Homo sapiens: one gene and its partner. The protein of the gene in region 1 purifies or fractionates together with the protein of each later gene. This does not show direct contact. Each region holds a gene or a part of one and is shown in the gene's direction. Other genes may lie near its edges. The genes, in order: CSN3 and MILR1.

Region 1 (3,496 bases):
GACTTAGAAAAAGGTTCTGTTTTTTTCTTTTAATTTTTTGACTTGTTTTTATTGTTGTTTTGGCTATTGCCTCTTTTTATTTTCTTGTTCATCTGGGTATTCTAGGCACTGACAAAGGAGGCAAGCATAAATAATGGTATATGTCCTCCTCCTAGATTGTAAAATTTTGAGGAACACTAGTCCTCGTTCTGTGAATCTCTGTAATATTTATTTATTATTAAGTTTAGAGTTGCTTTTAAGTTAACATCTATTAATTAATTCTATTACCTGCATGTTGTGCTTGTGTATAACATGTCCATTAATTCTATTAGGTCAATTCTTGGAGTCAAAATTACCTTTTAAAACTTTGAGTTCTACAACTCAATACTTTGTGGTCACCTGAACATTTGGAACTTAGGTTGTCTCTTTGAGTAATAGGGCTTAAAGTTTAAATCATGAAATGATCTACAAATCCCTGCTGCATAGCAACCTCTTCCTGAGCTACCTGAGCCGGATTCGTCTTTCAAACATTCCTTCCCATTTTCACAAAGGCTTCAGGCCTCAGGGACATGAACAAATATACAGAAAAAAAAAAATTTATTGATTTTACCATTCAATCTTATGAGTAGTCAAATTTATACAAATTAAAACATCAATGTGATACCATGTTATATGTACTATTTTATCCCTTCCCCCAAAATAAAAATAGTTAGATAATATTTTACTAGCACTTATGCACTAAACTGCATAAACACATAGCCTATTGGTGACATTATAATTTGACACAACTTTTCTATACCACAATTTCATAATTTCTATCAAAGAATCAAATCTCATTTGTGAAAAATCATTTTAAGGTATTAACGAAAATTATTAAAAAGGCCACTGGTATACAGATGTTAATCATCACTCTGTTTATAATTAAAATTTTATCTTAATAGATAACGATAAGAAATAAACATTTCATGACATAATCATTGATCACTTAGTTATCAACTATAAAAATGTAACTATGAAACCTATGATATAAATAAAAAAAAGAGACACCACATTTCCTATAAAAATGCAGGATACTTTTTAGACAAGCATATACCAGGAATACATAACATAGGTTGATATCGCATTAAGGTATCTAGATTGTCAGAATTTTTTAAAGTATACTTTCTACAATATTCATATTACTTCTTTTTTTTTTTTTTTTTTGAGACAGAGTCTCGCTTGGTCGCCCAGGTTGGAGTGCAGTGGCACAATCTTGGCTTACTGCAACCTCTGCTTCCCAGGTTTAAGCGATTTTCCTGCCTCAGCCTCCCAAGTAGCTGGGACTACAAGTGCCCGCCACCATGCCCAGCTAATTTTTGTATTTTTAGTAGAGGCAGGGTTTCACCATGTTGGCCAGGCTGGTCTTGAACCCCTGACCTCAGATGATCCACCCACCTCTGCCTCCCAAAGTGCTGGGATTACAGGGTGAGACATGTGCCCGGCCTCATATTACTTCTTTACATTTTAAACTAATGATTTAATATATTTAAAGAAAAGCAAGTCTTTGTCTCAAAGCAAGGAAACTTTATTACCTTCTCAATTTTCTGATTTTCTATACTCACACCTTCCAAAAGGTTTCTAGAGTCATTTTATACCCAAGGAATACATGTGTAATGTCCTAAAACAGAACTGTCAATTTAAAAATATTTAATATTATACCTCCTTTCAAAAGTTTCTAAAAGCTTTGGAGTTTTTAGTTTTATAAATATGTGTCCATAAAAATTGTTTTCTCACTCCTGATTCTCTAAATATGTCACAATCCAAAACTAAGAAAAGCACTATAAAAACAAATGAAAGATGGTATTAAAAACACTATTATTTATATGTTAAGTTTATGCAAGAGGCAATATTTTAAATCTTCTAAGTAAACCTTATGAATCATCTTAGTATGAGAGCAGAGAAAGGAAAAAAGGCTCAATGCTCCTCTAATTTTTAACAATCTAACAATGTATATTTAATAAAAACTAAATAGAAATTATTCATATTTTTCATTTAAGCATATTTGTTGGCATGGGAGTCAGATGACTAGATTTTTCCCACAGTGACTTTTTCATTCTAGGTGGTGATGTTTAAAGACAATATAAACATGCAGTTTATTATTACTAATCAGTTAGACTACTGTTGCTTCTTAAGTAGTCCATAGGCCTCATAGATCACTCATGAAAAATGTTTTAAAAAATAAAAAGAAAACATATTTTGTCTTTAACACAAAAGATTTTTTTAACTGATTTAAGTACTTTTTTTTTCTTTTTTAACTTATTTCTCATTATTTCTTCTTCTGGAACTCCCCAGGCTGTGGAGGTTCAAAACCAGAAACAACCAGCAGTAAGTCTATTTTAATTACTTCTGTTACAGGCATGAACTACAAAATATATTCTGCAAAGGTCAATTGTATTATAGATGCCTTCTGTCTAAAACCTAAATATTTCATTTCCATAAAACAATCTAATAATATTTGCAAGAAAATAATTTCAGCAACAGGTGATATGAATCAACATTGATGTTCATCTGAAAGTTTTATTTTCTTATATAACCCAAATCATGTATCTTTGGTTTTCATGTATATTTAGCAATATGAGAAAACTCTTTCAACATTTCATATTGGAAAAAAATGAAAACATAAGTAAAGCTTAATATTTCCCCTTTCCACTTTTTAAGACAAGGGAAGATCCTTTTCTGACCCATCTTTGAATACTTCTCATACATCTATATTTACTTCCCCTTTCGTTTCCCAAATATGTTTGAATACATTTAAATGTGTCTCGTTTTAGGAGAAATGTTTGCTTTGTAGTATAATTTTGTCAATTTATTTCTATTCATATGGAAAGGTCTACTGACAAATTTTTAAACAGAGGCACATAGATATAGACAATTCTTTATCTAATCTTTTGTGAAGAAAATTAAACCAAAAAAAATCCAAAATCTAAATCCAGGAATCTCTCCACATCACATTATGTTACTATTCTGCTATAGTTTAGGAAAAAATAAATGTGCTCTTGGGCTAATTTTTAAATGAATAAAATTTGAGACCAATTACAAATATGTGGTGAGAATACATACGTGTGTGTGCGCCATTCTGTGTGTGTCTGCATGTTGTGCTTGTGTATAACATGTCAAAGTTCTCAATGAGATTTTTCTCTGTGTTGTACCTACAATAGCTAACATATAAGATCACTTTCCATATATGCCAATCTCTGGGCAATATGGTTTACATTATGAATAAACTCATCTAATTTCTTGAAACAAATATTATATTAATATTATCAAAATAATATTTATAATATTGAAAATCATAAAGTGGAAAGGCAATGTACAAATCAACATCTTATAAAATAATATTGCTGCTGGGTTCCATACTTCTAATATCTTACTCAATGGTAAATACTATATTATTTCAAAAAATGCAGATTTAAGGTATTTCCACATTTGGGTCTATAATAATAATATTCTGTATAATTTATTTTTTTTGCAGTGCCAT
Region 2 (3,828 bases), on another chromosome or scaffold:
GGGACTACAGGCGCCTGCCACCACGCCTGGCTAATTTTTTTTTTTTTGTATTTTTAGTAGAGACGGGGTTTCACCATGTTAGCCAGGATGGTCTCAATCTCCTGACCTCGTGATCTGCCCACCTCGGCCTCCCAAAGTGCTCACTCATCAAATGTTTAAAGAGAACACAGGGCCGGCTGCAGTGGCTCACGCCTGTAATCCCAGCACTTTGGGAGGTTGAGTGGGGGCAGATCACTTGAGGTCAGTAGTTCAAGACCAGTCTGGCCAACATGGTGAAACCCTGTCTGTACTAAAAATACAAAAATTAGCTAGGCATGGTGGTGGGCACCTGTAATCCCCAGCTACTTGGGAGGCTGAGGCAGGAGAATTGCTTGAACCTGGGAGGTAGAGGTTGCAATGAGCTGAGATCGTGGCACTGCACTCCAGGTTGGGTGACAGAGTGAGACTCCGTCTCAAAACAGAAAAGAAAGTAAATAAAAAAAAAATTGTTTTTAAGTGTGGACTCTTGAAGTCAGTCCCAACTCGGCCATTTACTAGCTGTGTGACCTTGGGCAAATTTCTCAATCTCTCTGAAGCACAGTTGGTTCATCTGTGGAATGGGCATGATACTATCCACACTACAAGACTGTCGTGAAGGTCAAATGAGATCATGTGACTGGCACGCCTGGCACATGATAGATACTTAACAGCTTTTCTTCCTTTCCTATAATACTGTCTTATTAATGCATTATATATATATATAATAAAATGTATAGCTGGGTTTTTCTGTTAGGTCATAGAATAGGCTATGATCTAACAGAGTGTAGCAGACCCATTTCCTGTTGAGAATTTCTCTTGAATCTAGTTAGCAGGGTTACTTCCTGCTCTTTGGAGGAAGTGAAAGATAATTGTGCAGCTGAGTTCTATAAATAAAAGTACAGTTGGAGAAAACGATATTTTTGGGGCTGGGCATGGTGGCTCACACCTGAAATCCCGGCACTTTGGGAGGCTGAGGTGGGAAAATCACTTGAAGCCAAGAGTTTGAGACCAGCCCGGGCAACATAGTGAGACTCTGTCTCTACAAAACATTTAAAAATTAGCCAGCAGTGTGCACCTGTAGTCCCAGCTACAGAGGCTGAGGCAGGAGGATCACTTGAGCCTGGGAGTTTGAGGTTACAGTGAGCTATAATTGTGCCACTTCACTCCAGCATGGTTGAAAGAGCAAAACCCTGTCTCTGAATAAATAAATACATTGAAAAGAAAATGATATTTTTGGATTAAAAAAACCCACTGTAAATTTACAAGGATTGAGAATAAAAGCACTTCTTGGGCCGGGTGTGGTGGCTCCTGCCTGTAACCACAGCACTTTGGGAATTCAAGGTGGGAGGATCACTTGAGGCCAGGAGTTCAAGACCAACCTGGCCAACATGGTAAGGCCCTATGTCTATAAAAAATAAACATAAAAAAGCACTTCTCAGCTTCATACTTAGAACTGGATCATTGACAAAATTATATTCATTATTAACAATAAATAGATTGTGAATTCTAGGAAGGGCAAGCTTGCACCCCAATTCCTCAAAGCAGAGAGATGCCCTCCACTCTCTGGCTTTCTCAGCACTCAGCTGAGAACCTCGGCTAACAACACACTGCACGGGGTTGGCCACATGCCCATTGGCCTTTCCCAGTGGGCCGTGAGCTTCTTGACTTCTCAGGAAGGGGGTCGTTCATCTTGGTTCCACAGCCTGGAGTGGAGTAAGGGTTCCACTCATATTTGTGGTCTGAGTGAGCACACCCAGTCTGTTTATCCTTTTCATGTTCACTTTCATTCTTCCAGACCCGGTGACTTCCCCAGTGCTGAACATTATGGTCATTCAAACAGAAACAGACCGACATATAACATTACATTGCCTCTCAGTCAATGGCTCGCTGCCCATCAATTACACTTTCTTTGAAAACCATGTTGCCATATCACCAGCTATTTCCAAGTATGACAGGGAGCCTGCTGAATTTAACTTAACCAAGAAGAATCCTGGAGAAGAGGAAGAGTATAGGTGTGAAGCTAAAAACAGATTGCCTAACTATGCAACATACAGTCACCCTGTCACCATGCCCTCAACAGGTAAGAGCAACCTGAGTTCTTTCAGCCAGGTCTGAACTCACTTCCAGAAACTGCAGCTGCTCCTCTGCCCACCCATTTCCCACCATGGCCACCTGACCTTCCAGGTCCTTCTGAAGGTGCATTTGTCAAGGTAGAAGGATAGAAGGAAAACTAGGTCGTGTGCAGTGGCTCACACCTGTAATCCCAGCACTTTGGAAGGTTGTGGCTGGCAGATCACTTGAAGGGTCTCTTTGGTAGAGTCCATGCAAACTCTCATGGGGTTGCTTTCTGCCATAAAGGAACCACAGAAAGGCCTAGAAACTGGAGCAGGAGGGGGACTTGTGGCAAAACTTTCTGCCCTGCCTTTCCAATTTGCATCTGTCTTAGAACTGCCAGGTCTTTTAGTTTTCTTTGTTTTTTCATCATTTGTATGTCTGCCTTTCTTTCTTTTCCTTCCTTCCTTCCTTCCTTCTTGTATGCCTGCCTTTCTTTCCCTTCCTTCCTTCCTTCCCTCCTTCCTTCCTTCCTTCTTTCCTTCCTTCCTTCCTTCTTTCTTTTCTTTTCTTTTTTTCAGAGTGTCACTCTGTTGCCCAGGCTGGAGTGCAGTGGTGTGATCTCAGCTCATTGCAACCTTTGCCTCCCAGGTTCTAGAGATTCTTGTGCCTCAGCCTCCTGAGTAGCTGGGACTACAGGCACCCGCCACCACGCTTGGCTAATTTTTGTATTTTCAGTAGAGACGGGTTTTCACCATGTTGGCCAGACTGGTCTCGAACTCCTGGCCCCAAGCGATCTGCCCACCTCGGCCTCCCAAAATGCTGGGATAACAGCTGTGAGCCACTGTGCCTGGCCATCTTGTACTGATTTCTAATACCATGCCCTCCTGCTTGGCTGTTTATTGCTCCACTGCTAATGATGATGGGTCCAGACTCCTGCACCACCCTTGGCTCAGGGCAAGAGAGGCCTCTGGCCAAGCCCTGTGTTTAGTGGGCTCTGGTCTGGTACCTCCAGGCTATGCACCTTCCCCTAGGCTGAGGGGTTCAGGGAGCCGTGGGGATGCAGCCACCTGAACCCTATACTCCCACTTTTCTGCTCCACACTCTAGGTACCTGGACCAAAATCCCCTGCCCAATCAGATCAGAAGCCATTTCCAGGGCCTGTACCAGTCTCTCCCCCAGCTCATCCTCCCGAGGGTGGCCCACAGTAAGGGTATGAGCATCCCTGAACCTGAGCCAAGGGAGCTGTTTATGGGGGGTGTGGATGGTGTTTGCACATGTGGGCTGGGGCGTCCACGTGCATGCAAGGCCCCTTAGGGTGCAGGTCAGAGCCCAGGTCGGGAGCGGGGCAGCCCGGGACTTCAGTGGGTTCTGTCCATGCTGCCACGTCCTGATGCCAAACTCTGGAAAGTCTGAGAATTCCAGATTCAAACCTGACCTTCCAGGTCCTTCTGAAGGTGCATTTGTCAAGGTAGGAGGATAGAAGGAAAACTAGGTCGTGTGCAGTGGCTCACACCTGTAATTCCAGCATTTTGGAAGGTTGTGGCTGGCAGATCACTTGAGCCCAGGAGTTTGAGACCAGCCTGGGTAACATGGCAAAACCCCTGTCTCTACAGAAAATAAAAAAATTAGCCGGGTGTGGTGGTGCATGCCTGTGGTCTCAGCTACTCAGAGGATGAGGTAGGAGGATTGCTTGAGCCTGAGAGGTCGAGGCTGCAGTGAGCTGTGATCATCGTGCCCTGCATTCCAGCCTGCGTA

The links.
Region 2: the proteins of CSN3 (region 1) and MILR1 purify together in Homo sapiens (co-immunoprecipitation; one large-scale study listed by IntAct). This does not show direct contact.

The regions. Positions count from the first base shown.
Region 1 is NC_000004.12:70,245,508-70,249,003, forward strand, and holds part of CSN3 (kappa-casein precursor), read left to right. Parts: intron 1-2,310; coding exon 2,311-2,343; intron 2,344-3,490; coding exon 3,491-3,496. UniProt on the Homo sapiens protein: Kappa-casein stabilizes micelle formation, preventing casein precipitation in milk.
Region 2 is NC_000017.11:64,455,587-64,459,414, forward strand, and holds part of MILR1 (allergin-1 isoform Allergin-1L precursor), read left to right. Parts: intron 1-1,813; coding exon 1,814-2,098; intron 2,099-3,828. UniProt on the Homo sapiens protein: Immunoglobulin-like receptor which plays an inhibitory role in degranulation of mast cells. Negatively regulates IgE-mediated mast cell activation and suppresses the type I immediate hypersensitivity reaction.